4 separate regions of the Homo sapiens genome follow, and regions 1, 2 and 4 are each linked to region 3. The links come from fine-mapping of genetic effects on gene expression. A gene starts in region 3. Each other region holds a variant in brackets. All regions are shown on one strand. Distances are from middle to middle. Region 1 overlaps FRMPD2 (FERM and PDZ domain containing 2). Region 2 overlaps FRMPD2 (FERM and PDZ domain containing 2). Region 3 holds the start of FRMPD2 (FERM and PDZ domain containing 2). Region 4 has its middle 26 kb from the start of C10orf71-AS1.

What was found.
Region 1: its variant is fine-mapped to the expression of FRMPD2 in prefrontal cortex (CommonMind, PIP 0.95).
Region 2: its variant is fine-mapped to the expression of FRMPD2 in testis (GTEx, PIP above 0.99). The same link has a PIP of 0.9 or more in cerebral cortex and prefrontal cortex.
Region 4: its variant is fine-mapped to the expression of FRMPD2 in cerebral cortex (GTEx, PIP 0.97).

Annotation. Positions count from the first base shown.
Region 1 is chr10:48,179,066-48,186,942 of GRCh38, reverse strand. It overlaps FRMPD2 (FERM and PDZ domain containing 2), which reads left to right. Exons shown (of 29, transcript NM_001018071.4): 18 at 1,298-1,390; 19 at 2,062-2,169; 20 at 2,261-2,377; 21 at 5,935-6,140. Among named protein-coding and RNA genes, the nearest start is that of FRMPD2, 92 kb to the left of the region's middle. RefSeq lists an enhancer at 1-214. The variant C/T (reference allele first, on the strand shown) is at 4,678.
Region 2 is chr10:48,167,944-48,175,820 of GRCh38, reverse strand. It overlaps FRMPD2 (FERM and PDZ domain containing 2), which reads left to right. Exons shown (of 29, transcript NM_001018071.4): 24 at 866-951; 25 at 2,728-2,875; 26 at 4,613-4,827; 27 at 7,128-7,226. Among named protein-coding and RNA genes, the nearest start is that of FRMPD2, 100 kb to the left of the region's middle. The variant A/G (reference allele first, on the strand shown) is at 3,900.
Region 3 is chr10:48,270,858-48,278,734 of GRCh38, reverse strand. It overlaps FRMPD2 (FERM and PDZ domain containing 2), which reads left to right and starts at 4,039. Exons shown (of 29, transcript NM_001018071.4): 1 at 4,039-4,192. The coding sequence starts at 4,168.
Region 4 is chr10:49,268,615-49,276,491 of GRCh38, reverse strand. No RefSeq gene overlaps it. Among named protein-coding and RNA genes, the nearest start is that of C10orf71-AS1, 26 kb to the left of the region's middle. The variant C/T (reference allele first, on the strand shown) is at 3,565.

The DNA.
Region 1 (7,877 bases), 92 kb after region 3:
CTGCTATGGAGGGTGTGTTCAGAAAAAGGCACCATTCACTGTAGATATGCTTCTTTATGCAGGCCAGAACATCACCTCCCAGTATTCACCAGAAAACATACACAGAGTAGATGGCAGTCCCTTCAGCCATGCATCCTCCTGGCCAGTTCCCTGTTGAATGTGAGGACAAAGAGATCCGACACTTGGAAAAATATCTCTACTCAGTGAGCATTAAGCCTGAGGGTTGGATCAGTGTATTAGTGCGTTTTCACGCTGCTGATAAAGACATACCCAAGACTGGGAAGAAAAAGAGGTTTAATTGGACTTACAGTTCCACATGGCTGGGGAGGCCTCAGAATCACGGTGGGAGGTGAAAGGCACTTCTTACATGATGGCAGCAAGAGAAAAATGAGGAAGAAACAAAAGCGGAAACCCCGGATAAACCCATCAGATCTCGTGAGACTTATTCACTATCACGAGAATAGCATGGGAAAGACCAGCCCCCGTGATTCAGTTACTTCCCCCTGGGTCCCTCCCACAGCATGCAGGAATTCTGGGAGATACAATTCAAGTTGAGATTTGGGTGGGGACACAGCCAAACCATATCAATCAGGAAAACTGCCAGGCAACTCTTTACAAGTAACTTGTCTGCCAATTTCTGCCAAGGTCCCTGGGGGAGGGAGAGACATGGAAGGACTGAAGTGGTGGGTCACCATTTGGGGATTTTCCCAAGTACACTGTGGCACACACTGAAGTGCCCCACTCCAGGACTCCAGCTCTCCAGGAACAGCTTCAGGGCTCTGCCTGGGGCTCCTCCATGATCCAAGCCAGGGGAAGACCACAGGTCACACAGGCTGGGCTGCTGGCACCTTGTCACCCCTGGTTATTTGAGGCCTGGGATGGGAAGGCTTTACTGTCTCACCTCTGTTTTAGCTTTTGTTTTTGTTTTGACTCTCAGCAATTATTAATACATCTCTGCTCATCCTCTGTCTTGTCCCAAAACCAATGCGGAAAAAAATAGCTACAGTAAGTCATACAGAAAACAAGCACCATAGCCCATCCTGTTCTTGCCTCTGCTCTTTAAGCTGGAACTTGAGCAACACTGAGTGACACTCCAGAGAGGCTCATGTGAGTGTGTGTTCAGGTGTCCATTCCCAGCACTGCTGGGAGATTAAATATGAGCTACTTTTGTTTTCAGGATTGTGTGCGTGTGAATGTGTGTGCGCGCATGTGTGTGAAATGCTGTTTACTCCTTTTGTATTAGCTCCCAAATAATTTGGGGGAAAAGCACAATGTGGTGCTCTGATTCTACCTCTAGGCTCAAAGAATAATAGGAGGAAGAGCTTTATAGCTGAACCGGGCCGAGAAATTGTACGTGTGACACTGAAACGTGACCCACATCGTGGTTTTGGTAAGAGGGCTCCCTGTAGGTGAGGCCCAGTCTCTACTGCTGGGCAAAGTGGGGAGGTGGGTACTGTTTTCCCTTTCAACTTGCCTACTCCCCTTTCCTATCCCTCCTCTCCCAGTCTGCCTTTTCTGGTAATCACTTCTGTTTTTTTTCTCCCTTTAATTGTTCCTAAAGAGCAATGGGACTTTTGTTTCCAAGTTTTTCTTTTTGGGGTGCATCTAAGTACAATGCAGAAAAAGATTTTTTCCCCTAATACCATGTAACAACATTCCTCTAGTCAGCTATGGGGAAGAAGAGTCAATTTATCTCACCTCTTACTAGTGACCACTTTCTAAGACCCGAAAAACTGTAGAAGAAACAAGGTACGGAGACAAGGTACTTGATTAAAAATCATTTCTTTCCTATGTCTCATTATCTACTGGAGCAAAATCCAGTGCATATTGGTGGTTTGTATTCCTAGCTTTAGCTGTGCTTACTAATGGGGAACAATCCACCTTTCTCCAAGTATCATGGTAAAGTAGAAAAGATCCTCTATTTGAGGATCAGAAGACCTGACTGTAACTATCAGCTAATGCCACTTGGTAGCTGTGTGATATGAGGGAAATAACCTAACCTCTCTGAACAGCAAAATCACTAAGTATCATCTTATCATGGACTATCATCTTGGATTACAGGGTTTGTCATTAATGAGGGAGAGTATTCAGGCCAAGCTGACCCTGGCATTTTTATATCTTCTATTATACCTGGAGGACCAGCAGAAAAAGCAAAAACGATCAAACCAGGTACATCTTTTTAAATTACTAGAGATGCTGTTTTAAGAAACCACTCTTTTTTATTTCCTTGAAGGATTATTGAGATGTTTTATTTTTCTAGGAGGGCAGATACTAGCCCTGAATCACATCAGTCTGGAGGGCTTCACATTCAACATGGCTGTTAGGATGATCCAGAATTCCCCTGACAACATAGAATTAATTATTTCTCAGTCAAAAGGTATGTTTTAACCCACTCTTGGGAGCTTAAGAGGCTCCCCTGTTTTCAGGAGTACATGATTACTGTGAGGTACTAGACCTTGAAGTCCACGTAGGTCTTCTATATTGCTTTCCTCATGGTGTTGGCTTGCAAAGAAGCAGTGTAGTGGCACAAATTAATAAGCTTTGCAATTTCAGGGGCAGAATGGGCGTTACCATGCTTGTCTTGCTGAAAGGGAGTAACCTACTCTAATTTTGTTAGACACGGCTGGATACAACCAGTCTTTTTTTTTCTGTCAACTCTCCTTGCATGGCAGGGAGGACCTTTTTATTGCCACCCAAAGTCCTTGTTGATAGGGTCGGCTCCAGGATTTCTATATTTTGTATAGAATCCTATACAAAATTTCTATATTTTGTATAGGTATAGCAATCAGCTGGGGAGGAGACAAGCACTGTTCTTTGTTAATCTTTTGTTTTGGGTTTAGGGCTACATGTGTAGGTTTGTTATTACAGGCAAACTCGTGTCACAGGGGTTGCTATACAGACCATTTCATCACCTAGGTGCTCAGCATAGTGCCCAATAGTTATTTTTCCTGATCCTCTCTCTCCTCCCATCCTCCTCCCTCAAGTAGGCTCTGGTGTGTGTTGTTCCCCTCTTTGTGATCATGGGTTCTCATTATTTAGCTCCCACTTGTAAATGAGAACATGCGGTATTTGATTTTCCTTTTTTTTTTTTGAGATGGAGTCTCACTCTTTCACCCAGGATGGAGTGCAATGGCACGATCTTGGCTTTCTGCAGGCTCCACCTCCTGGGTTCAAGCAATTCTCCTGCCTCAGCCTCCTGAGTAGCTGGGATTACAGGCACGCGCTGCCACACCCGGCTAATTTTTGTATTTTTTAGTAGAGACGGGGTTTCAATATGTTGGCCAGGCTGGTCTGGAACTCCTGAACTCAAGTGATCTGCCCGCCTCAGCCTCCCAAAGTGCTGGGATTACAGGCATGAGCCACTGCACCTGGCCTTTTCTTAAAGCTGAATTTTCGTGGCAAGCTCGCTCTTCTTACTTGATGTGCATGTTCCTGATCAACCTAAAGAGTAAAGTACTTTTTGATGATGCTTTTCTTCATCCTTTAGATAAGAATGAGAGAGCAACAACTGCCTATATTAAAGGAAAATACTATTGTTTTTATCGGGACCAAGCTTGAGGAGCCTGGAGGAAGTAATGGGAGTAGGCTAACATCCCTTCTCCCTAGTTTCCTGAGACCAATGCTGCTTTTTGGTTGGGTGATCCTGTAAACTAACAGCAGACCGCCTGCAAATTCAGGCTCATGATTGCTTCTTCACACTTGAGGGGTGTTGTACAGTTTTCCCTTGTATACAGGAGAACTTCCTGTCACACCAGCCAGCATTTTCTAGGTACTAAATGCAGGCACTGCATTTGCCTTGCCTTCTGAACACTTCTGCATGCATGCTCTCTCACTCTTGTACCTGTACACAGTGCCATGCAGCTCCCCTGTCCAGAAGCTATGGGTGGTGGAAGGTGGCCATGCTGGGGTCTCAGCCCCACACCCTTCATCCTGGGGTTGAAGCCTTCTCAGGGACTGGCCTCAGTACATCTCCAATGCCAGTCTCTGGCTTGCTGTCTGTTGGATTTCCCAGCACCACTGCTCTCCTTTCTGCAGTGGTTCAGCAATCCCTGTGTTTTCTTCCACATCCTCCACTGACAGGAGCAGTCAAACCATCCCATGTGTTGTCAGGAAACACAATGCAGGTGACCAAATCACAATTCAGCATAGTCCAAGGATGGCCTGCTGTGATGGAGGTTGTCAAAAAGCAGTACTCGAGGTCTGCTATTCTCAAACCACAACCTCACATTAGAATTCCAGACAATGAGTTTCCCACAATGGCTGGGAATAAAATGTCCTTTCACTGTGGCACCCCAGCCACCTTTTGGCAATGCTGCCTTCATCATGGTGGGGTTTCCTCATAGCTGGGCCACTGCCAGAGGAAGATGTTTCCTTGGTGATGCTGGCTGGGTCTCCGTGGCAGAGACTTGACTACCATGACTTTCTTCTATCTCTTTAGGCTGCTGTTAAGGCAGCTGGGCTAGATTGGAGATCAGGATCAGACAGATAAAATGTCCATCATGAGCATCTGTCATGGTCTACAATAAATTGAGTTTCCTTTACCAAAAAAGGTCTCCCAGCTCATATGTCTACTAGGCAGGACACCAGTTGCAGCATGGTTTGACTTTTCATTTCAATCGTAAGTCCCATCCTCACCTCTCATGGAGGATGTGGAAGAGAATGAGCCGATGCTTATGA[C/T]ACTGCCAGAAGGACAATGATGACAGAATCTGTGAATGAAAGGGCCAGAAATACAGCATTATGAAACAGTGGCCCTGCCACTCCCTGCTGGATACCTTTAGATTTGAATAACTTCAAATCAAATTCATTAAATCAGATTTATTTAAATTGAATTCATTCAGCATGTGAGTTTGGGCACTTCCCTGAGTGTTAATGAGTCTGTATCAAAAGTAGTAAATCTACTTGTATCCAGGTCTAAAGAAAATCTAACTGTTATTCATTCCTCCCACATATATTTGTGGAGCAGCTAATAATAACATGTTAACAGTAGATACATTTATTGAGGCTCTACCATGTACTAAGCTGTGCGTGTCTGTGTGTGTGTGTGTGTGTGTGTGTATGAGAGCCATATATATATATATATATATGAGGGAATATATATTCTTTCATATATACATATATATTTTTATCTTTCTTAACATATGTAAAATCTTTTCTGTACGTATAATCTCTAAGCCTCACCAACTCTACAATATTATTGATATTGATATTATCTCTACTTTAGATACAGGAAAATTTAGGTTCAGTTATGTTAAGCACCTTGCCCAAGGTTTTTCTACTGATTCACAACCTCACGTTCTTTTCTTTGTTCTATGCCAGGTCACGAGTCAGACACAGGGTGAGCAGGAATCAGTGGCCTAGCTTTCACTCACAGGGGCCTGCAGTTTGGTTATTACCAAGCCTCCCAAAAGGACCTGATACGTTGGTTTTTGGATCACATGGTGGCTGCAGATGTGCTCAGTGGGGTGTCCAGGAGAGGCTGGGTTTAAGACAGTTCCCACATGCTGGCTGTAGCATTTGGGGCAGGACACTTAATAGCTTTGACTCTGTTTTCTCATGTTTGAACTGGGATTACACCTTCCTGGTGGGTTTGCTGAGAAGATGGGAAGATGTCCATATCTTCCTATATGTATATCTAAGGTGCCCATCACATGGCTAGAGCTTAATAAGGGATAGCTGGCCTTATGAACTTCTTTTGAGCCTACGCATTCATAGTTGGGTCACGTAAGCTCTATCTAGGTTTCTAAATCCCATGTAGAATCTTCCCTTTCTCTAATCTAAATGTAACATCTTTCAGGAGGAGCTAAATTCATATTGTACCCGAGCAGCTATAAACGATCACTCTGTCACTGGAGGAAAACGCTGTGCCCACATAGAGATGCCACCAAGAAACCGGCCTTTTTAAGCTGTTGACTTTTTCTTGGCTTGTTTTTATAGGTGTTGGTGGAAATAACCCAGATGAAGAAAAGAATAGCACAGCCAATTCTGGGGTCTCCTCTACAGACATCCTGAGCTTCGGGTACCAGGGAAGTTTGTTGTCACACACACAAGACCAGGACAGAAATACTGAAGAACTAGACATGGCTGGGGTGCAGAGCTTAGTGCCCAGGCTGAGACATCAGCTTTCCTTTCTGCCGTTAAAGGTAATCATCCCTTGGTTTACTTTCTAGATCTGGATGAAAGAGAACAGACTGTGAAGCCCAACAGCCTGGCCCCTAGGCCCTTCCTGTTCTCTGTTTTCCATGTCAGGTGGATGGAAGTTACTTAGCCCCTTTGAGCCACAGCTTCCTCATTTGCATACAGAAGCAAATGCCTGCATGGCATGGTTGTTGAGAAAAACGCATAGAAGAAGGCAGAGTTCTAGGACAGTGTCTGGGCACAGGCTCAGTGTGGGTGCCTCTGGAGTCTTTAGTCACTAATTATAATTGTTGTGATAATAGCACCATGAGGAAATTGATTGCTGCCAATGGCAAGGCGTGGGCAACCAGGCACCTCCTATTCTTGTCCTTGAATTGGTCCTCAAGCTGGGAACTCAGTGGCTTTGCTCTTGACCATACCCCATGGAGGAAGAAGATGGGATCTGGAGTAGGTGTATGGAGGGCTGTGTGCTTCAGTCCCAGCTCTGCTGTCCTCTGCCGTCTCTTTGGATTCCCAGTGGTGTTGTCTTCTCAGGCCCCGCCAGACCCATGCCCCAGCCTCTCCATTCTGCTCTGGGCCCTGCACAGCTGGTGCTCATGGACTGAGTCACCTTGCTGTGTTCTGCTTGGTTCTGCCCAGTCGAAGCCTCAGCAGGAGCCCGCAGTTGTGGGATGAGTGAGGACAGGGTGGCAGTGCTGGAGTCTCAGTTGCACACCCTTCATTCCACTCTTTCCCTGTGCTGACACAGGTTGCCTGTGCCCCTCTACAAAGAGCACAGCTCCTATCAGGGTCCATCGACCACTCCCTTCTCTCGCCCTTCAGGCTCAGGGGTGGTCACAGCACCCAGTGTTTCCAGCCCCAGGTGCTGAACTGATATTACTGGTTTCTCCAAAGGCTGGCAAGACCTTTGAAAACAGGTCTCCCACGACCTATCCTCCCTTACTCAGGCTGAGTGTATGCCCTTCTCATTCTTGCTGGGACAACTTGCTGGTTGAAACAGGCAGGTTATTGCACCTCTTTCAACCTCGTTTCTCTTTTTATGATGGAGATAATGATGTCTGTCCACAGCCGTGGAAACTAAGGTACTATGCCCAGTGTCGGGGATAAAACCCGTATCTTTCTTCTACTCATCTTAGCTTCATCAGCTGGGACCCCTGTAACTAAAGACAGATTAATGAGAGAAAAGCATCCACGTGTATTTACTATAAGTTTTATGTGACATGTGAGCCTTCTTATGGAAATGACCTGAAGAAACAGTTCTCCCTGAGTATATTTGATGAAGAATGGAGAGTCATGGAGAAATGAGATAAGACAAAAAGCAGGAGTATGTAAGGTGGGAGGAACTCAGCAAGGCCTGCTTGTTCAGATTCCTCTCTCAGTCCCTGTGTCTTCCCACATAAGATGCTCCATTTTTCCAGATATAGGGAGGGCATTCTCACTTGAGGGTCTTGTGCCCTGCTTCGGGGGAAGATTAGAAAATCCTTCCTAGGTTTTAGGGCCTGCTTCAGAAGAGAAGGGCAGGGGAAGGTCAGAGAAACCTTCCCTCATGTGCTGTTTCTCCAATTCCTCCAATGTGCCAAGGTGCCCTATTTTGGGGTAGTGTGTCTTGACCTCTGTCACAAGGATCTGGCATGCAATAGGGCTCCATGAATGACAGTGCCTTCCTAATTGGCCATGGTGCTCACCTGGACAGAACATCCCATGAGGAACTGGATGCAGGAGGCCAGTGGAAGAACAACGAT
Region 2 (7,877 bases), 100 kb after region 3:
TGGGAACTCTGTGCTCCATGGTGTAAAGAGCCCTGCACTGGGAGGGGCAGCCTCTAGGCCTTGCCCTGCTCCCATTCTGAAAACTCATGCAAATGATTGCCTCCCCAGGTCATACTTTTCTCACCTGGAAAGGAGGTGATAGAACCTGCCCTGCCCATTTGATAGGTTGGGGGGTCTGCAGTGGCACACTGGGAAGCATAGGTGATAGAAAAATAGTAGAAGACTTAAAAGACTTGTGTTGCTCTTTGGCCTCCATGGGAAAACATACTGCTTCCCTTGGAGGACAAGTGGGCCTCGGTAAACTCACTCGCACATCCGGGGAGGACACCTGAGCCTTCTGTTTGCCCTTGCTCAGCTCCCACTTCTCTGATGGAAGGGGGTGATTTTTACTGGTCTCCAAAACTGCCAGAATTGAGCCAAAAGGGGAACCTAGGATCTTACTTATCTCCATTTCCCCTAGAATTCTGGTGTCCCCAGCGTCAACCATGCCTCCCTGACCTTTTTTTGAAATAAAAAAAATACATGCTGGAGATATAAATATCTAAGTGACTTGAAAATACTTCCAAAAATGGTTTCACAGGAAAACAGGAGGAAGGATAAGGTTGAACAGAGCTGGCTCAACCATTCTGTGAGCCAATAATAGAAAGGCTTTTATATCCCTGATCTGTGATGTGCCTGAGAAGAAGGGAGTGAGACTGCTCAGAGAGGCAGGATTCCTGCTGACTCCAGGGGGACACCTGGCACCTCAGCTTCCTTTCCCACTTCTCCAGGCTGCATGGAGGGGTGCCGGGCAGGGGCCTCCTGGAAGGGAACCTCCTGCAGCCTCAAGCACCAGGTCATGACATGACATCTATCCCTTTCCCAGGTGACCGACTCCTGCAGGTGGATGGAGTGATTCTGTGCGGCCTCACCCACAAGCAGGCTGTGCAGTGCCTGACGGGTCCTGGGCAGGTGAGTGGACTGTTGCTGACCAGCTTCCCCTCCTTCCGGAACTTTCCTGAACAACATCAGAAGCTGAAATCGCCTCTGGGTGGGAGGGAGGCAGGCAAGAAACAAGACTTTTTCTTTGTTAGTTTTTTTTTTCTCTTCCATTTCTTCTTACCCTCACTTTTCTATGGGGATGTGAAACCCAGGAGATAGCAGATAGATGTTTCTGAGTAAAAAAAATCTCACCCCCCATAGATAGCCTTAGAAACTTACTGGTGGCTTGCCTGAATTCTGGAATCAGACAGCGGAATGGAGAAGATGGAGTGAAGAGACTGCTCTAGCCTGGCTCTGGCTGCCCCAGCCCCGCTGGCCCTGTGTCCATGGGCCTTCTTACCTCCCTACGTTTGCATAGGATGACCCCACTCCGTTCCCTGTTCATGCCATTCCCCCTCACCCTGTGTTGTACCCACCAGGGCGTGGGTCAGAGTGTCCTGGGATTCTTTTCCTCACAATGAGGTAGGAATTCAGGGTGCCAAGAGCAGAGCCATTCATCCTTTATGTCCCCTTTATTCCCTGCCCCGCAGTGACTCGATGTTATCCCACTGTGCCGAGTCCTCTGCCTGAGGTTAGGAGCCTCTAACTGCCTCTGTGTCCTGAGCCACAGAGCTGGCATCACCCTCTTTTGGCAACTAAAAAGTCAACAGAGACAGGAGGGATTCCTGAAGGCCCTTCCAGCAAGCTTGGGGCAATGTTCTGGCCACTTTTCGCTTTCTTTCCCAAAGCGGTTTTCTGGTGTCTGGTGAAATTTGCTTATATTAGTGACTTTGGTTGACCTATCTTGAGAACAGAGCCATAATTTATTGGCACCTTCTGATATTTAGACCTTTGCTAATGAGCATGGGTAGAGAGGGTACTTGGCTGGCCTCCTGGCAGCTTAAGCAGGTAGGAATTGTCCCTCTGGGATCCTGGGCCAGGTGCTGAGTGACAGGTGCAACAGGAAGATGAAGGCAGGGCCACATGCCCTGAATGGGAGCTTGGCATTTCTGAGAAGCTTCCAGGTGATGTCTATCTGCTGGTTCTTGAATCACACTTAGGGCGACAAGGGTATATGGTGTTGTGGGGAGAAATGTGGGAAATCACATTGGAAAGAAAGGGGAGGGCAGGTGGTACAGACCTGGGGTGCCATGGGTTTGGGTCTTAGGTGATGGGAAGCATTGGAGACTTTAAATCAAGAATGTTGCATGTTCAGTTTTTGTCTTAGACCAATTCACTGGCAGCCATGATGGGGTGGACCAAGAAGGGTGCAGACAGGGTCCAGTGAGCCAAGGTAACCAGAGCTTGCCACGGCCCAGCGGGTCACTGGCAGTGAGAGAGGAGGTGGAGGGGAGGGGGCACTGAGGAGCTGTTCTTGATGGGGAATGTTCACATCTTAGAAACCAGATGGGGGAGAGCTGGACCACTCCAAATGTGGCCCTTGGCAGGTTAATGGTGGGGTGAGCCAATGCGAGGGGAGGAGTGTTTTAGGAAGAACGAGGAGGGGAAGTGAGGGTGAGTGAGGGGAGGAAGATGAGTGTGGCACTGCATGTGTGAAGTGGAGGTACATGTGTTGCTTTCAGGTGCACTTGTCTAATAAGCACTGAGAAATCTGGGTCTAGATCCCAATATATAGGCTAGTTGAGAGATTCAAATGAGTCTGCTTATAGGAAGGATTCGAAAATTAAGAAGCATTTGCAGAGTCAAGGGAGTGCCTCCTGGTTGCCATATGAAGTGTAAACTGAGTTTGTTCACCTTTCCTTCTAGGTTGCAAGACTGGTCTTAGAGAGAAGAGTCCCCAGGAGTACACAGCAGTGTCCTTCTGCTAATGACAGCATGGGAGATGAACGCACGGCTGTTTCCTTGGTAACAGCCTTGCCTGGCAGGCCTTCGAGCTGTGTCTCAGTGACAGATGGTGAGAGGGGAGAGAATTGAGTGTTACTATTGTCATGTTATTGTGTGCCGCTTTTGAATTGTCAAGTCAAAAGGGAAAGGCAGGAAGGCTTCCTCTGGGTCCTGAAAAGAAAGCGAGCCATAGTGATCATGCTGAGATCTGCTTTTTCATGCCATGGAAGCCCATCTCATGGAATAGGTTTCTGGAAACAAATGCATTTTCCCCAAATTATTTCTAGGCATCTTTCTGCCCCCAGCCTTCCTCAGTCCTTTGATCAGCTGCCAGAATGTTAATGTTTGTGTGAATATTTAGGATGAAATTGACTGAAAGGGTCATACACTTTCAGATACATTTGGCTTCACAGTCCAGCCAAGTCATTTGTAACAAAGTTATTTGAGGAATGACTAGGCAGGTTGGGAGAGAAGGTTCAGGAATCTAGCCTTGTTATTAGCATCATTTTAAAAGGCAAACGAAAGATCGTTTAGAGGGACAAAACTGCACGTTTTCCGATGGGCTGCCCCTCTGCAATTCCCTTGTGATTTTGGTATTTGCCAGGAACACGCTGATTTCCTCAGTAAGAACGATTTGGACCTTAGCCATGTTTTAGTCCCTTCATAGAGATTTTCTGATTTTGCTGCAGAAGACTCAAGCCAGCCATAGGGTAGGGGTGGGGCAAAGGGGCATGCTTCTGTTTAAATCAAGTCTCCTCTGTCCTCACCCCTTTGCTCACTCCCTTGGGGCCTTTGAGAAATGGACTCCAAAGAGTGGAGGAGGCCTTAGGGCGATGGTAGAACTGGTCGTGTGACACACCTTCACATAATTGCTTCACATAATTGCTTCACATGCTTCCATTCTTGCCCTGGTGAAGTTTGCAAGCTGTGCTCTGTCCCTCTGTGCATTGATGCCAGCGGGGCAGCCCAGAGGCCTCTTTGGTGGACAGACCATGTAGGTTGCCAGCTCTGTTCATCCTTGGTGCCCAGAGGCAACTGTTTTGTCTTATGGTCAGCCTACATGGGTAAACAAAATGGCAGCTAAAGCATTGTCC[A/G]TAGAATTGGCCATAATTTTCTCCATGGTCTAATTATGCAAAATTTAGTTTCAAGTATACTACAAATGACTAGAGTTCTAAAGGAGTAATAGGAATGTATGTGATACAAGTTTTATTAAATGCCAAGAGCATGTTGTGTATGCCTAGCAGCTATATCTTTATGTATAAACATAGTTGAGTTATCTATAATTGTGCTATTCAATATGGTAGCCACTTGCCACATGTGGTTATTGAGGACTTGAAATGTGACCAATCTAAATGGATAAAATATGTATTGGATTTTGAAAGCTTAGTTCGTAAGAAGAATAAAAAATATCTCGTTAATAATTTTTTCATATTGATGACATGTTGAAGTGGTAATATTTTAGATATATGGGATTAAATTAGATGTACGATTATAGCGTATTTAACCTGTTTCCTTTTACTTTTTAAATTGTTTTATTTATTTTTTGTTTGCTTTTTCCTTTTATTTTAATGTAGCTATTTGAAAACTTCAAAATGACATTTGTGGTTTGTATTTATAGCTCACATTATATTTTATTGGACAGCACTAATCTATAACATACATAATGTACTCTGTCATAAAATTAGCAAAGGAATTATTTGAACGTAAAAGAAATAATTCATCTACTTGACAATTTGCATTTTGAGACTGGTCAATTTCACTTGTAATCTACTGAAGAATTTATTTTTATCAACATCCCACACTACAGGTCCTAAGTTTGAAGTCAAACTAAAAAAGAATGCCAATGGTTTGGGATTCAGTTTCGTGCAGATGGAGAAAGAGAGCTGCAGCCATCTCAAAAGTGATCTTGTGAGGATTAAGAGGCTCTTTCCGGGGCAGCCAGCTGAGGAGAATGGGGCCATTGCAGCTGGTGACATTATCCTGGCCGTGAATGGAAGGTCCACGGAAGGCCTCATCTTCCAGGTGCCGGGGGTCATGGGCAATGCAGCTCTCTGTGCAGGCTGGCCCCAGCTTTGCCTCTTACTAGCCTGCTGCCGTGGGGAAAACTCTGGGCTCTCAAAAATCATACCAGCAGCCCGGATTTTAATCACACAAAGAGAGTAATTAGTGGTACATGCTCACATTTAATTTAAAATCTCTGTTTTTAAATATCTGACCTTGAGTCAGCCTTGCTTCTCACTGGGTTCATGAGAGAAGCTGAAGATAAAGCCCTGGCCTTTGTGCTGGCTGACGTCTCTTCACACACATCCTGGGAGGTGGGCATGGGGCTGAAGGGACTAGAGTGGGTCCCTTTCTGCTCTCCTTCCCATTTCTCAACACATTTACAGCTTTTCATACATTATTACACTGATTGTCCTGTCTATGATAAAAAATGCAATTTAAGAAGAGAGAGTAATGAAATACTGTATATATTAGACAGAGTCCTGGAAGAAAATGGAGTCATTTGAGGAACATTTAATAAAGGTGTGGGCAGGTTGTTAGGAAGCTCAAGGGAGCATGTTGTGGCCTAGGGCTAGGAAGAGTGGGATGCAGTTACCCCTATCCTGAGGCCAAAGGGGAAGGGAAAGAGCAGTTATTCCACCCCAGGAATGGAGAGCTGTTGGAGGGGACTCGCTGGCATGAGCTCTCACCTTGGCTGAGGTTGTAGTCGTCCCATGGCAACCTGAAGGGAGGAATTTGGAAGGAGCAATGACCTCCGCTCCTCCCTGTCTCTGGTCTCTTGCCGTGTTCCCCTAGCTGAGCCCAACAGGAAGCCTCATGCAGCCTTTATAAGTCAGCTCCAGAAACACAAAGCAAGATGGACAAAGGGGGACAGTGGCTCTGGGCAGGGCTGGGGGGAGGTCTCTAGAACACCATATGCTTGGGTGGGAGGGCATGCCTTCATCCATCCATCTCCTGATCCAAGAACCCTTCTCTGAGAACCACTGCTGGGCTGGCAACTCTATGAGAGACTGAAGACACAGAGGAAGACAGCTCATGCAGTTTCAGAGCTCATGGACAGAAAACAGCGGTGATGGCAGGAGATATGTATCCTGAGAGATGAAAGCCCATGCTGCAGTGCTCACACCAGTGAGCCAGGAAAGAAGTGCACCCCTTGGAAGTCCTGTGTGGCTGAAGCAGGGACTGGGGAGTGTCTTGATCAGCAGTTCTTAAGCAGAGATTATTTCCTTCTCATGGGATATTTGATTAAGTCCAGAGACATTTGTGATTGTCACAACTGATGAGTGCTTCTGGCATCTAGTGAGTAGAGATCAGAGATGCTGCTAAACAACCTACAATGCACAGGACAGGCATTCGCATAAGGAATTGTCCAGCCTGAGAGGTCAACAGTGCCAAGAGTTTGAGAAATCCTGGTCTAAATAGGAAATAGGAGCTATCGAGGCAACCTTGAACCCTGGACATTGAGAGGGTGGCTTGGAGCAACAGATTCAGCATGGCAGGGGCTTAGGACGTGGGTGCAGAGGGGAGTAGATGGGAGAGAGGGAACTGTGGTGAGAGGCAGAGGCAGGCAGAAACGGGGTCTATGTGCTATGCCTTGGAGCTTACATTGAGGGAAAAGTGAGTCAGCCAGGGTGTGCAGTGGGGGAAGGACTCAGTTATATCTGCACTGTGGAAAACTACCCTTGAGCATTGCAGAGGGAGGCAGGTGGGTGACACTGGAGAAGGCAGCAAGCAGTGAGGAGGTCACTGCAATACTACAGGTGAGAGGTTCCCAGAGCCCAAGCCGAGCCCTGATAGGAAGCTCAGAGCCAAGGGTCAGGCTTTAGAGATTCAGATGGTGGAGGCTGCAAAATTGCTGGCCCAAGATGAGGGCAGGTTGGGAGGAAAGGGCAATTGAGATGAACAGCTATTTGTTGGAGTCATTCTTTCTCTCTCTGAAGAAAAGGCATTGGTATTGGCAGATATTGCCATTCCCTTGAGCAATGTGGAAGGAGGCAGGTGGGTGACACTGGTGAAGGCAGGGAGCGGAGAGGAGGTTACTGCAATATTACAGATGAGAGGTTCCCAGAACCCAAGCTGCACAAAGGTGATGCACAGCCCAGCATCTTGCATCAACTTTGTGGAAGCTGCAGGCCACTGACCTTGGTTCCTTGCACTTTGAAAAGTCAGGCCCACAGCAGGGTTCTCCGGAGTTCTCTGGAGTGAGAAATAGATCAAGGTGCAGGGAGGAGGAGCTAGTGCCTGGGACGCAGTGGGGAGAACATCACTGCATCCCCAGCAATGCAAGCCCAAATCTAACAGTGAATCTTGGTTTTTCGCAGGAGGTGCTGCATTTACTGAGAGGGGCCCCACAGGAAGTCACGCTCCTCCTTTGCCGACCCCCTCCAGGTGCGCTGCCTGAGCTGGAGCAGGAATGGCAGGTAGGCTGCAGTGTCTTCTACTCTCTCTACCTGGCTCTGGTTGGGCCCCCCTTTTCCAGACTCTAGGGTCCTAAGAGGGTTGTAGATAGGTTCAGTGCCACCTCCTTTCACAGGGGTAGGAAAATAGCTGGCCCCCAAACCTCAGTAGGTCTCCTTCCTCTCCCTGATTCTGCCTCTTCTGACATTTGGGTCTTCTTGTAGATGTTTACATGTTTAGACTTTGGCTGTGAAACTTTTAGGGCCAGGCTCTCTGGAAGCTCAGGCATCAGAGAGGGAAGCCTGGGAAGAAGGAGAGTAGACACAGAAGCAGACCAAGGGAATTTCCAATAAGAATTTCCATTCTGAGAGATGATGTGGAAAATAGGATATATGATTACCCTCCTAAAGCATGAAATAGGCACGTGCAGTCTGGTTCAAAGAAGAGAGCCATTGGAATCAGGAAAATAGGGATTTTTACCTTGACACATATATTAGTCAGGTTCTCAGAGAAATAGAACAGATAGAATGAGTGTGTGTGTGTGTGTGTTTATGTGTGTGTTTATATATGAAGAGAGTGAGAGAAAGAGATTTATTATAGGAATTGGTTCATGTGATTTTGAGGGCTGGCCAGTCCAATTCTACAGGGGAGGCCAGCAGGCTGGAGACCCAGAG
Region 3 (7,877 bases):
AGAATAAAATACCTAGGAATACAGCTAACCAGGGAGGTGAAGGATTGCTACAATGAGAATTACAAAACACTACTCAGAGAAATCAGACAAGACACTAACAAATGGAAAAACATCCCATGCTCATGGATAGGAAGAATCAAAGTCATTAAAATGGCCTTACTGCCCAAAGCTATTTACAGATTCAAAGCTATTTCCATCAAACTACCAACAATATTCTTCACAGAACTAGAAGAAAACTATCTTAAAATTCATATGGAACCAAAAAACAGCCTGAGTAGCCAAGGCAATCTGAAGCAAAAAGAACAGAGCTGGAGACATTGAGTTACCCAACTTCAAACTATACTACAGGGCTACAGTAACCTAAACAGCATGATGCTGGTACAAAAACAGGAACATAGACCAATGGAACAGAATGGAAAGCCCAGAAATAAGGCTGTACACTTACAACCATGTGAATCTTCAACAAAGCTGACAAAAACAAGCAATGAGGAAAAGACTCCCTGTTCAATAAATGGTGCTGAGATAACTGGCTAGCCACATGCAGAATATTAAAACTGGACCCCTTCCTTACACCATATACAAAATTAACTCAAGATGGATTAAGGACTTAATGTAAAACCAGAAACTATAAAAACACTGGCAGACAACCTAGGCAATCAATACCATTCAGGACATAGGAACTGGCAAAGATTTCATGACAAAGACACCAAAAGCAATCACAACAAAAGGAAAAATTGACAGTGCGATCTAATTAAACTTAAGAACTTCTGCACAGCAAAAGAAATTATCAACAGAGTAAACAGACAACCTACAGAATGGGAGAAAATATTTGCAAAATATGCATCTGACAAAAGTCTAATATCCAGCATCTATAAGGAACTTAAACAAATTTACGAGAGAAAAACAAACGACCCTATTAAAAAGTGGGCAAAGGACATGAACAGAAACTTCTTAAAAGAAGACATACATGCGGCCAACAAGTGTATGAAAAAAGCTCAACACCATTGATAATGAGAGAAATGCAAATCAAATCCACAATGAGATACCATCTCACACCAGTCAGAATGGCTATTAATAAAATATGTATAAAGAAACAGATGTTGGCAAGGTTGCAAATAACAGGGAACACTTATACACTGTTGGTGGGAATGTAAATTCATTCAACCATTGTGGAAGACAGTGTGGCAATTTCTCAAAGACCTAGAGACAGAAATACCATTTTACCCAGCAATCCCATTACTGGGTATATACCCAAAGGAATATAAATTGTTCTATTATAAAGACACATGGACATTTATGTTCATGGCAGCACTATTCACAATAGCAAAGACATGGCATCAATGTAAATGCCCATCAATGACAAATTGGATAAAGAAAATGTGGTATACATACTCCATGGAATACTATGCAGCCATAAAAAAGAATGAGATCATGTTTTTCATGGGAACATGGATGGAGCTGGAGGCTATTATTCTTAGCAAACTAATTCATGTACAGAAAATGAAATACAGTATGTTCTCACTTATAAGTGGGAGCTGGATCGTGAGAACTATGAGCACAAAGAAGGAAACAACAGACACTGGGGTCTACCTGAGGGTTGGGGGGGTGTGAGTAGACAGAGAACCAATAACTACTGGGTACTGGGCTTAATATCTGGGTGATGAAATAATCTGTACAACAAACCCCCATGACATGAGTTTACCTCTGTAACAAAACTTCACATGTACTCTCGAACCTAAAATAAAGTTTTTTTTTTAAATGATCATACGCAATAAAGAATTTTGACAGGAAAATAACCTTAAAAAATAAAAATATATAAAATATAACAAAATTATATAGGGAATGACACAGAGATAACTCAGAGAGAAACTATTAGCTTTGATAACTTGAAAAACAAAAACACATTGATAAAATTTTTATGCAAAAAAATGGACTTAATGAAATGTTAGCAGAGCAACAATAGAAGGGGGTTACTGCTAGTATTTTTAACAGAAAAAGTGAAAGTGGTGGTGACTTTAAGCAGACCAGCATTTACCTGTTGGCAGATGACTTAGGTGTTGCTTTTTGTTCTGTTGTGAACGAGCCACATGACTGGAGAAGTCAACTTTCTTCTTCTGGGAGAAAGGTTGCGTGGTCAGCCTGAAAAAATTACTAAATAAAAATTACCTGGACACTTGCTGAAAATACAGATGCTCTGGCTCGGGCCCAGAGATTCAGGTTCAGCAGATTCAGGGTGGTGCCTGGGAATCTGCATTTTATCGTCTTCAAGGCTGAATCTGATGAGAAGACAAGTTTGGAAAAAACAGTAAAAGATTGTTGCAGATATTGTGAAATGTTTTGCTAGCTAGCAGGGAATGTCAATATAGATAGCTTTAAGCAGAAAAAAATGTAAAACATTGTGTTTTTTAGTTTTTTTCAAGTAATATAACATAAGGTTATAGGGGGAAAATACCAAAATGAACAATAATTTTCCTGACTAAATAATGAGCCAAAACTCTTTCCCCTAGCAACCACTATTAAGTTGCTTGTGATTCCTTCCAGAACCACAAGAATATGTCTACATAATATTCTAATATACTACAGTGTATAAAGAATATGTATACATAAATATACGTAAATATACCTGGTCTTTATGTACCTATTTGTAATAAAAGGAAACATACTAGGCTATTCCATACCTTTTGTCACTTAAAGAATTTTCTAGGCAATTGTTATATGCCAGCACACACAGATCTACTTCCTTCCTTTACACAGCTGCATAGCTGGTTTTCTACTGTGTGTGAACTACAATAATCACTGTTGATGGGCACTTCAGTGGCTTTCAGTTTTCTGCTACTACCAAAATACACTGCAAAGAGCATCCTTTCTCAGATGCTTTGGTGAACTTTTGCAAGAATGTCCATGGGGTTACTTCTTAGCAGCTGGGTTTACAAAGGATATGTACATTTACAAATTTGATGAATATTACCAAATTCCCTGCAGAGAAGTTGCACTTATCTGTAATCTCACTATTGGCATATGAGAGTACTCATTCTCCATGCCCTCACCAGCACTGAGTTTCATCAGATTTTTTTTTCGAGACAGAGTCTCGCTCTGTCACCCAGGCTGGAGTGCAGTGGCCCGATCTTGGCTCACTGCAAGCTCCGCCTCCCAGGTTCACGCCATTCTTCTGCCTCAGCCTCCGGAGTAGCTGGGACTACAGGCACCCGCCTCCAGGCCCAGCTAATTTTTTGTATTTTTAGTAGAGACGGGGTTTTGCCATGTTAGCCAGGATGGTCTCGATCTCCTGACCTCGTGATCTGCCCGCCTTGGCCTCCCAAAGTGCTGGGATTACAGGCATGAGCCACTGTGCCCGGCCTCAAATTTTAGTATTTTATTCTGTAGTCAGGCAAAAACTCATGTTTTCTTTTTAAATAAATACGTCTCAGTTTTGACACTGCTATTGATTTAAAGGGCTTGAGAGATCTGTTCTTTTGCCCCTTCTACTACAGAGCTATGATCTACTTCTTGCTGTTCCCCATCTCTGCTGGTTCCTTTCTGAATCCAAGCACCAGAAAGAGTAAGAATTCCTTTCCCCCTTTCTCTAACCACATTTTTCTTGCTTTCTCACAGACAGATCCAGGTTATCATTTCCTCCTGCTGCTTTCACATGGTTCCCTGTCCTGTTGGTTGCAGGTCCAATGTCTGACACTATGAAAGGGCATGGAGGACTCTTGAGTTGATGACACTAAGCCTCTGCTCTGGGGCTGCCCCCAGTTCCTTGCAGAGCTCTTTCTTTTGATTGGGCCAGGAGATAAAGAGACATCAGCGTAAAAGCCCTGCTGAGCAGCAATCCCATTGCCTTCAGTGGCACCTAATCCACTTGAGCTCTTCCTGGCTCTCTCACGGGTCACTGGCTTTGAGGACGCAGGCTGCTGGGGTGGCAGTGCCTGCTAACAGGCCAGAGACTGCGCAGGACCCAGGGAATGAGAGTGGTGGCAGGAAAGGGAAGGGGCCTTGTTGACTCACTCGCTGGGCAGCAAGTGCTTAGTGACAAGCAGTAAACAAAGACAGCGGCAACAGTGCTGGTGGCAGGGAGCTCCGCGGACAGACTTGCAAGAGACCCCTGCTCCTTGTTGGAAAGTTGTCCCATGATGAAGGCCTAGACCTGGTCACGGAGACTTTTGGATGCAGCCTTTAACGAAGGACGCAGGTATTCCTTGGCATCATTCAGTTTTCTCCTATAAATCTGGTCAGGGAAAGGGCAAACTTCTTACTGGGTCTAGGTATCCGGAATAAGAAGAACACAGCTGGGCAAGGACCTGTGTCAGTGCCCTTTGTGGTATTATTTGGAGTATTATTTGTTCCAGGCCATTGGCTAAGCCTGATAGACATTGTATTTGTTTTTTAGCAATAAAGAATGGGCTCAGAAGAGAAAACATGGACTTTAGAATCAGACCACCCCTTGTTTGAATCACTGCTTTGCTATTCAGCATCTGTGCAAATTCAAATGACTCTTTTAACTTTCCTAAGACTCGTTTTTCTTACCTGTAAAATGGGGATAATAATGCCCCATGCGTTACGATGTTGCTGAGGATTCATGGGGTGACACGCGTAAGGCACTTAGAACATACTTGGAGCATTTGAGTAGCCCAGTAAATCATGGCTGTCACTATCTTTCAGAAGCAAGTGTTTTGGTTATTGCTTAAAGAGTATCAGTGGTTTAAAGTAAGAAGACTCAGGGTATGCCTAGCTGACTTCCAGAAAACAATGGAAAAGAAATGATTCACCTGGCTTTATTTGTATGCTTAAAGGAAAGAAAAAACTCAGTTGAGGTTTTCAACAGTGTAAACAACTTTTTTTTTTTTTTAAAGCAACAATTGAGTTCAGAGATGAGTCGTGTCTATTTCTCCTGGCTAAATCCTGTGATTTGCTATAGGCTGTAGCTGAAACCAATTAAGTAGTTCATTAATTCAACGAGAACTTACTTGGTATCTCCTGGGGCCACATGCCAAATGCTGGGGATGTCTCCCCCAGCCCAGAGGATCTTCCAGGTTGTAGGACAGTGGGGGTCGGGGGGCAGAATGCTGGACCTGCATGAAAACTGGCGGTGATAGCAAGTGCCGAAATGGAGGTGGCACGGGCTCCTGGGAGAGGTGTTGCTTGAGCATGGCTTTAATGCTAAGCGAACACTAGCAGGAGTTGGGAGCAGGGGGATTGGAAAAGGCATCCCAAGCAGAGAAAAGCACATGCAAAGGCCCAGTGGCATGAATAAGTAAAGCATGCTCTGGGAACAGCAGGCAGTTTGGCCTAACTTTAGTAAAGTGGGAACAGGGGAATCTGATAAGAAAGGAGGCTGCAGAGGTGAACAGGGGAGAGCAAGGAAGGCCTTCTATGGCCCAGAGTTCACTCAGAAGGTCCCAGATAGGCACTGGTAGTTTTAATGAAGGATGTGTCGTGTCTGCATTTAATATTAAGAAGATTAATCTAGTAGCAATATGGGTGTGGGATTGGAGAGGATGAAACCTGGAATGATGACAGATGGCCTAACCTAAGAAAACAACAGTGGAATGTAGAGAAGGGGAGGTCTCCAAGCTGGTGCTGCCAGCACTGTGAGCAAAAACAAATACATATGCATCTAATAAGTTCATTATAAATTTTACTGATATGAAGGATGTATATTGCACAATTTACAAGTAATAAAATATAAAATACTCTTTATTACAAATTCTATATAGCCATTTGATTCTCACAGCATGCATTTGTTGATTTTTGCTGAACTCTTATACCCTTGGTCAGCCTGTTTGCAATTGACCACTGAATGTAGTTCCAATATGAATGTTGGTTGATATTTTTGTTTACATTGACAAGTAAGAAGAAAGTGAAACAATGAAGATGATTGTCTTAACTTCACTCATCTGTCAATGACATGAGTGACTGCTGGATCAGATCATAGTTTTTGAATTTGGAAGAGTGTTTTCCCAATTTTTGTGTTATTCACAATGTAACAACTATGGACGCGACACACTTTTAGGTTTAATCTGCATGAACATTTTCTCCATCACTTTCTTAGTTTTCTTAGGGAATGAAAAAACAGCAAACCAAGCCCTAATTTGTAGCTTTTGCCAATTTTTGTGGTATAAATACTACCACCATGGCCAATCACAAGCTCCCAATGTGATATCGCTGAACACAAAGGTGGAAGGGCTGTGCACCAGCACACCATTACACAGTATTTCCATCATAGAAATGTATTTCATTTAAATAAGTTCCAAAGCACAGACAACAGTAAAATGCAGTAAAATAATTTGGAAATGGTGAGTTTCAACATATTGTTAATATAACTTATTTAATTGGAGATTTTTATAATACTTTTTGGTAATGGCTGTGTTTAATGACCAGCTTACAAAATTTCTGGAAATTTAACAATTGGCTCTCACAGGCCAGTAGGAGCCTTCTTCAGCATATCACAGAATCCAAGAAAGGTTTAAGGAGCAGAATACAGAGTGGTGAGAAAATGACTCATGGGTGCAAATGAAGGGGGCACGAAGGAAGAATTAGGAAGAATACTTCCTTCTCTCTGGGGATGAAGCTGTCACTCACCAAAATGTTGGACTTATTAAAAAGAACACCATGAATAGATGACTATGAATTCAACTGCTCAGGAATAGCAAGGGCTGCGGTGTGCAGCCCAGGACAATGCTACCTGCAGCTCCATTAGTGAAGTCATTTCTGGTCTGAAACCCCAGTTTTGCTGGCTTGTCTCTAGCCTATTCCCTGCCCTCTCCATATACTCAGGATTCATAATATGAATAGCTAGGATTTATTGAAAAACTGCCATATGCCAGACACAATAACTCATGGTATAAACGAGTAAAGAGAGGAAGTAACTTGCCCACGGTGAGGTGGGATCAATCCAGCTCTGACCTCGGAGCCTGCTCTTCCAGCCACTATGCTTTTCTATTCTCATTCCCCTCCTGAATTGTATTCACCCTGAGATATCAGTGTTTTTAGCTGCTTTCCTGGCAGAAGTCTGCTTTCGAGGCTGATTCCTATTCCTCAGGCTTCCTTTTACTGGTCGCTGGCAGCTCTACTGTTAACTGCCCTCCCTTTTTTTTTCTTGCCTTGGCTGTAAGCCTCCTTATTCCTGTATTTGCTTGAGCTATCATAGCCCAACATTGTTGGAAATAGAGTAGGTAGTGAAGGGAGGCAGGAAGGAGATGTGTAGGATGGTGCACAGGAACCAGTTCCAGGAGGGCTGGTGCCAGGCAGGAGGCAGATCAAGGCTGAGCTGTCAGAACTCACTCTTCAATAGATTCAAGATGGGTTAAACAGTGTCTGGCTGGAGAGTAAATGTATTAGACATTTTAAAAAAGTGCCATCTAGGAATTTCTTTTGTTTCTTCTATCAGTATCATTTTTGTATGATGCCAGTCCAGAGTGCAGGCAGCATCTGAAGTATTCACTTGTTAATTTACTGAGTCATTCAGCCAGTGGGGGAAGAAGGAGCTCCAGATGCGAGTGTCCCCACAGAGCCTGCAGAAGGACAGGAGGCAAGGGGGTTGTGGTGCGTCTAAGGCTGGAAAAAGGCCATGGGGGAAAGAGGAAGCTGCTAGAGATCAGTCCAAAGCGGTGGGCCTGAGGTCCTGCAAATCTTGCTCAGGATCTGAGCTGATCCTTTGGAGAATAGAAAGTGGCTGAAAGTTTTCACGAGGTGTGACATGGTCAGATTTGTGTTTTAGGAAGAGGACTCTGCAAGACAGAGAATGGATCAGGGCAGGGGCAAGGTATGGTTGTAGGAAACCATTTTGTAGAATTTACATTTCAGTGGTCATTCAGGGGAGGGTGCTGGTGGCTTAGACCAGGTCAGTGGTGGTGGGGTTGGAGAGAAACAGGCGG
Region 4 (7,877 bases), 1.0 Mb before region 3:
ATCAGGTCCATAATTGAGAATTTGATACGTGCTTTCCCCCCTCAAACATAGGTTTGTAATTCCCCTGTGAGTTGCTAGAAGCTAAATTAACTACCCCAAATCCTGTCCCTTAAACAGGAGGTAAGCTTTGCCCTGGAGAAGGCATGAGGTGGCTGGACTGCTTTGCACGGGCCCCTCTGCTGAGGAGAGGGTCTCGCCCTGGAGATTCTAGTGGTATCTTTGAGCCCATTTGGAAGTTTCTGCAGGACAGGAGGGCTGCCACTCACAGTGTTCCCATCCAGATGTCTCCATGCAGTGGCTCTTTCAACTGCTAAGGAGCAGGGAGGGCTTGTGGGATCAGCTGACCATTGGCTGTGGTGGCTACTCTGATCAGCATCACCTGAGGGCAGAAGAGGAGAGAGTACGCAGGGAGATGAACATGAGTCGAGAATCTACCAAGCCCTTGTCCTTTACCGTACACTGAAACTTTGTCCCTGTATGTTTTTGCATGGACCATCGGGCCAGCTCTCTGTTCACAAAGGCCTATTCTTCAAAAAACAGTGGGAGTGTCAGCTCAGAGCCTTGGGATGGGCAGTTCCACACATATGTGTGTATTTGCAGTCATCCCGTGGGCTGTCAAACAGTCTGAAGAAGGAGGGTAGCATTTGAGGCAGTGTTGGAAGAGAATGAGAATGAGCTGGCTAGTGCAACCTGGTATGCAGGTAAGGGAGGAAAAGGGTGAGAGCCAGGCACTGCACGCTTGTGAGTTAGGAACCATAGTCTTTGCCTTACAGAAGAAGAAATGGAGGCTCCAGCTCACCCCAGCACTCAGTGGCAGGGTGAGCCATGCACCCAGAGCTCCCAGGACGGTGCCTCCTGCCATGTGCCCCTCTTGGCTCCCACACAGCCTTCCATTGCGTTAATTGAGTGCTTCAACAGCCTTTGAAGGCCGGGTTTTGTGCTTGAATATATTGCCAAATTAATAACTTCAGAACATTTCAGGCCATGTCGAAATAGTAAATTAGGACAGGACGGGCTATATATTCAGCGCAGAGAGCTGAAGTACCATTTTATTACATGTGCCATGGAATTAAAGGCTTAATTTTCTTTTAAAAGACGGTGATGCATCATTTCCCACAGCCAGGTAAAAACAGTTAGCAGAAATGATTTATCCTTCATTCCATTTAAACATCAGAAACCAGAATCCCTGGATCTTGCTCTCCATTATTTATCTCTGCCTGGAGGGCACTTGAGACTTTTACCTGCTGTCTAACTTGATGGACACAGCCAAGCCGTGGGCATGGTCGGGAAAGAGGGAGGCCGATAGCGGCAGCCAGTGCCTGGCTCGGGCAGCAGCCCTTGTCTTTGGGATGAGGGATGTGGCTTCCCTCACATGGGCTCTAGGAGCTGACAGGCTGCATTTGACCCTCAGGCTGGGCCACAGGCTATCTCTGTGTTCGGACAAGTTCCTCACAGAACCTGGCCTTCTCACCTACAGAATGGAATAATGGCAGCATAGAATAATGGAATAATGGCCTCCTTTTGGGGCTGTTATAAGGCTGTCATGAGATTGCAGGTGGAAAGAAAGTGGGCTTGCAGTGACTCTTGCACAATTATGTGTTATTTGCGGGAAGAAATCATTTTAGAACAGCTCCTTTTTACTTTTTCAAAATAAAAGTAACATATATTCATTGAGAAGCATTTGGGAAAAAAATAACAGCAAAGAAAGTAAAGAACATGGTATCATATTGCCCAGCAGTGGTCAGTGTTATTTTTTTCTTTTTTCAGAATACTTTTTTTTTTTTGAAACAGAGTCTCACTCTGCTGCCGAGGCTGGAGTGCAATGGCATGATCTCAGCTCACTGTAACCTCCACCTTCCAGGTTCAAGCAATTCTCCTGCCTCAGCCTCCCAAGCAGCTGGGTTACAGGTTGCTGCCACCACGCCCAGCTAATTTTTTGTATTTTTAGTAGAGATGGGGTTTCGCCATGTTGGGCAGGCTGGTCTCGAACTCCTGACCTCAGGTGATACACCCACCTCAGCCTGCCAAAGTGTCAGCATATTTTTAAAAAACAAAATTAGGTTCAGAGACATTTGCAATTTTACATTTTGACAGAACTTCATTCTATCATGATTCTGGAGGCCAGAAGTCCGAAGTCGAGGTGGAAGCAGGCGCCCTCTGAAGGCACTAGGGGCACATCCTTCCTGGCCTCTTCCAGCTTCTGGTGGCCCCATTTGTTCCTCAGTTTGTGGCTCACGTTTCCCCACATGATACCAGAACGTGAACATTTGCCTGGTCACTACTGTCTACAAACTTCTTTCTTGTATGGCTGCATGCTATTTCTTCATGTCAATGTGCAGATAATCTATACCTATCTCTGATGATTGGATCTTTAGATTTTTTCTTTTATGAACACTTAAAAAATCCTCCCACAAAAGTAAGAGGTACGTATTACTAGCCCATTTTGCAGGTTGTTGTATTAGTTTCCTGTGGCTTCTTTAACAAATTAACACAAATTAGGTGGCTCAGAACAACAGAAGTTTATTCCTCATGGTTCTGGAGGCCAGAAGTCTGAACTCAAGGTTTTGGCAGGACCGTGCTCCCTCTGAAGGCTCCAGGGGAGGATCCTTTCCTGCCTCTTCCAGCTTCTGGTGGCTTCCGCGGCTGTTGCCGCATTGCCCCAATCTCCGTCCCCATCTTCACCTGGCTTCGGCTGTCCAGGCATCTCTCTCCTTTTTGCGTGTCTCTTCTTATAAGGGCACGTTGCCACTAAATTTAGGGCCCTCCTGGATAATTATGATATCCTCATTTTAAGATTCTTAGTGTAATTACATCTGCATTACATTAGAGCTTTGGTCACATTTATTGTCTCATTTAACCTCCCTAGCAGCTCAACGAAGTAGGCCTGTTATCCCCATTTCACAGGTGAGAAACAAGACTGAGTGAGGTTGAGTGACTTGCTCAATGTCACACAGCTAAGGAGGGCATGGAGCTGGGATTCGAGGCTTACTAAAGCTGTCCCTTCTAGGCCTGAGCAGGCAAAAGGCTGCAACCATGCTTCTTCCTGCTAAAGCTCCTCAGTCAGAGATGGACTTCTTCAGGTAGAGGTGCTTGAAGGCCATAAGACTCAGAGGCGTGCACATGGTATGGTCACTGATGTGAAGGAATCCAGGGTTCCTCACCAGTAGCTGGGCCAGAGGCTGCTCCTGCCCTGGAGAAAGGCTTCTGCCAGCTCCCAGGCCCCTGGTGCAGAGGGCAGGCACCTCCCAGCACAGAGCTGTGGGAGGGGCTGAGTAAACCAGACAGTGTGCTGGGATTTCCTCTTGCCCAGCTGTGCCCAGCACTGGATGGGCTGAGGGTGGACCCTGGTCCAACTCAGCCACTCATCAGTAGGGTCTCTGTCCCCCTGCATCCCTGGCACTGTGCACAGCTTCCTGCCTGCCCTCTGTGTGATGGCCCGAGGCTGAGACGCCGCCCACTAAGTCCCTCCAACCTGGCCTTGCCAAGAGAGCAGGAAACTCAGACGTGCACAGAGGCCCACTCACCGTGACAGCATCCCCCCGAGATGGCAGGCTCAACTGCCCA[C/T]GGATGGGCTGCGGTTGTGTGCAGGGTGCCCACCCTGGGCACTCACACTTCCTTTCTCGGAGCCGCAATGAGGCAGCAGGAAAGAATCTGCTCCCACCCACTGGGGCCTGCCCTTCGCCTGAGACACCAGATATGACTTGGAAGCCAGCTGGGCATTCCTATGTTAGGCCTTTCAGAAAGAGACCACAGCCTCGCTGCTCAGAGAGGCCACAAGTGCCCTGGCGTGGCCCCCGCCTTCCTCTCAGGGCTTTGCTCTTCTCTGTAATGCTCCTGTCCCCCTGGGACTGGGCCTCTGACCTTGGTGAAGCCCTCGGCCGACCCCACACCCGCCCTCTGGCTCTGTTCATTTATAAATAGGCCCATTTCTCATCTTGCTCCAGCCCAGAGCTCCACACCCAAGCAGCAGATGCAACCTCGGGATTCCCTTTCCAGCCAAGGGCAGAACAGGACCCGACCAGCTCTTGGGCCTGAGGGATGAGATCACAAATTCTCCTGCAAATAGCAACTCACACTCCAGTCAGAAACCCAAGTCAGCTTGTGTGTGAGTTACTTCCTTGTGGCTGCTGTCACCAGTTACCCACACGCTGCACAGCTGAAAACAACAGAACTTCATTCTATCATGGTTCTGGAGGCCAGAAGTCCAAAGTCGAGGTGGAAGCAGGCACCCTCTGAAGGCACTAGAGGCCCATCCTTCCTGGCCTCTTCCAGCTTCTGGTGGCCCCATTTGTTCCTCAGTTTGTGGCTGTATCACTCCAATCTTTGCCTCTGTAGTCGCATTGACTCCGCCTCTTCTATCTGTCTCAAATACCCTCTTTCTCTTAGACAAGGACACCCATCATTGCATGTAGAGCTCACTGGGATGACCTCCTCATCTCAAGATCCTTAATCACACCTGCAAGGACTCTTTTTCCCAGTAAAGTCACCTTCACAGATTTTTTGGGATCTGGACCTGAACATATCTTTTTGGGGGCCACCATTCAGGTCACTGAAGCTTGTTGTCAGGAATAAAGTTTACTGAGATGGCCATGGATAGATGGGTTAAACCAGGATGCTCGAGGAAAGAGATATGCCACAGAGGAAAGCAGACATTCGGGGTGCCTGCTGCTGCACCGTCCAGGGCACCCTGGGCAAGGTAAATCATGCTGAAGTCGACTCTTTAATGATGAACTAACACCCACTAATCTGAGGGCTTGGGAGCAGGCTTGGTGTCACCTTGGGCCCAGCAGCATGAGTTTGTGGGTCAGCTGCCCAGCTATCGGCTGGATTAGTGAATCGTCAATAGATCCGGTTGAGCTGAGACAGCTGGAGCAAGCAGACCACACATAGATTCGTGGCAACGTGGCATGATTTGTAGCTTGGCTCTTGGCCACCACGCCACTCACAAAGCCTGGTCAGCTGTCACCGTGTCAGGCTCTTTGCTGAGTGACGATGACCTGAGTGTAGCCTCCTGGGGCATGGTGCCCTGGAGTCACACGGACCTCCCCACCCCATCCTCCACATCGTGCACTGCCCATGGGAGCTTCCAGAAGCTCAGGCAGTTTTCTCCTCCGTAAAATGAGAAGGAAAAAACCCACTTGTAGCACTGTTGCCATTGCAAAGCTAGATGTTATGTCGGGGCCTGCCCCAGGGCCTGGCACACTGTAGGCCCTCAGGAAATGGTTGCTTTGATTTTGGGGGTTGAGGGGCACCATCACACACTCATTCACACAAGCTGGGACATTTCCACTGCCTCCCTTCCTCTCCCCTCTCCCCAGGTGCCACCTACCTCTGGCCTGCTCCCACAGCCTCACCCAGGTCCCTGCAACTGCAACCTGACCACTGTCCCTGCCCCAGTCTCCCTGCTGTTAGCCTGTGTCACGCAGCAGCCCTGCCATTGATGCTCTGGTTTTGTCACATTCCCTGCCCAAGTGTGTTAATGATTTCTCACCCCTGCTGGATAGGAGCCCCTCAGAATCAGCCCTGCTCACGTGGCATCTCATATCACTGTCACTGATCCTCTTTCAGGTCTTACATCCCAGCCCCAGGGGCCCTGCTCAAGGCTGCTGCCTTCCTTCCCACCTCCTCTTTCTCTCCCCCTCTCCTCTCTCCCTTCCCTCTTCTCCCTTCTGGTACCCAGCAGACAGCCATGCCCCTTCCCTGTGCTGCTGTGCACCTTGTGCTTACTGCTCTGCTGAGCCTTTCCAGGGGCCAGGCACTGCACAAGGTTCTGGGATTTTGCAGTGAACACAGCATTCCAGCCAGCTTTCCGACCAGACATTGAAGGTCACAGGCCAGGGCACAGGCTCTGGAGCCAGAGTGTCTGGACTGAACTACCTGTGTGACTTTGGGCCAATCATTCCACCCCTCTGGGCTTCATTTTCCTCAGCTGTGAAGTTCTTGCTTCTTTGAATTGCTAAGAATTATCTATGCAGAGCACTGAGGATGGTGCTATGGGTGTTCATCTGTGTGAGTGTGAGCTTTCTCCATCATGCAGCTCACAGCCCAGGGGGAAGTCATACAAACAATTCTGACACTCTTTAATGAGGGAAGTGTAGGGCACAATGAGAGGAAAAGGAGGGGTACCTCGTTAGCCAAGGGCAATGGATGTGGCATCCACCTCCCTGGAGAGGCCATGAGCTGCTCAGGGGCAAGGACCGTGTCATAGTCATTGATATCTTCCAGGGCCTGGCATCATGTGGGCTCCCAGAATGCAGCAAAGGTCTGCTGAATGAAGGAATGGATGGAAAGGTGGATGGATATGTGAATGGATGGATGGATGAATAGATGAATGAAATAAAGAATAGGTAGATGGACAGATGAGTGGATGGATGAACAGATGGATGAATGAGTGCATGAGGGGATGGAGGGACAGATGAATGAATGAATGGATAGACAGGCAGTGCATTTGGGAAGCGTTCCAGGGATGCCAAGTCTAGGACTGAGGGAGTGGGCAGAGAAAAACTCAGAGGCATTTCCAGGATTCATGACAGGCGTTGCTCGCAACTAAGGGAGAGGACTGGTACTCCACTGGCTGGAATCTTCTGAAGAGCCTTTTGAAATGTCTTTCAGAACTGTCTTCCTGGGGCTTAGGTGGGAGTCTTTCATCTTTTGGTTCCTCTCCTCCCACAGGCCAAGGGTGGCCCTGGGTATTAACATCTCTGCACTTTGGGACTGCACCTGTGTGAATGCTCAGTGGATCCCCACAGAAGTGCCCACATGCCCTGGAATCAGGAAGGGTCTGAGGCAGAAAGTGAGAGAGGCCTGAAGTGTGGGGTCCAGGAGATGAAGGTGCTGTTCCCAAAGCAGGTTGAAGCCTGCTAGTTTGTCACAGGCTGAGGCAGCAGTGACTAAACCAAGAGATCTGGACATACAGATAGGCAGTGGGGTACAGAAAGTGTCGAACAGCATGAAATGAGGGGTGTCCCTGAAAATAAATGCCATGAATGTCATGCTCACGCATTCCTTATAAACAGGGTTCTCCATTGGTCATCCATTGTCACTTTCCTTTGGAACTGGTCAGTTTCCAATTTAGCCAACCACTTCCCAAGCCTTGGACTTGGGCTGTCATAGGCACAGGATCTTGTGTGAAGGTAAATTTCCATTCCTTCGGGCTAAATGGCCAAGAGTGCAATGACAGATCATATGATAATTGCATATTTACTTGGTTAAGAAACTGCCAAACTGTTTTCCAGAATGGCTGTACTATTTTATATTTCTGTCAGCAATATATGAGTGATCCATTCCTCCGCATCACTTTTTAAAGACTGTAAAAGGCCAATCTGACAGGTATGTAGTGATAGCTCTTGGTAGTTTTAATTTGCACTTCCTAGTGATTGCTGATGTTGAACATCTTTTTTTTTGTGTTTATTTTTTTATCTGTGCATCCTCTTTGGTAAAATATCTGATCATGTCTTTTGTCCATTTTTAAATTTGATTATTTGCTTTTTTCCCCTTGAGTTTCGAAGCTCTTTGTATTTAGATGTAAGTCCTTTGTGAGATATGTGATTTGCAGATATCTTCTCCACATCTTTTCATCCTCCCAACAGGGTCTTTTGTAGAGTAAGTTTTAAATTTTGACATGGCTCGTTGTATCATTTTTCTTTTTATAGCTGGTGCTTTTGGCGTCAAATCTAAGAATTCTTTGTCCAGCTCTAGATCCCAATGATTTACTCCTATCTTTCTCTAAGAGGTGTATGGTTTTGTGTTTAACATTGAAGTCTGCAATCCATTGTTTTGTGTTAATCTTTGTACAAGATGTGAGACTTAGGTAGACGTTTATTTGGATGTCTCATTGCTCCAGCACTGTTTGTCGTAAAGGCTCTGTTTCTTCCATT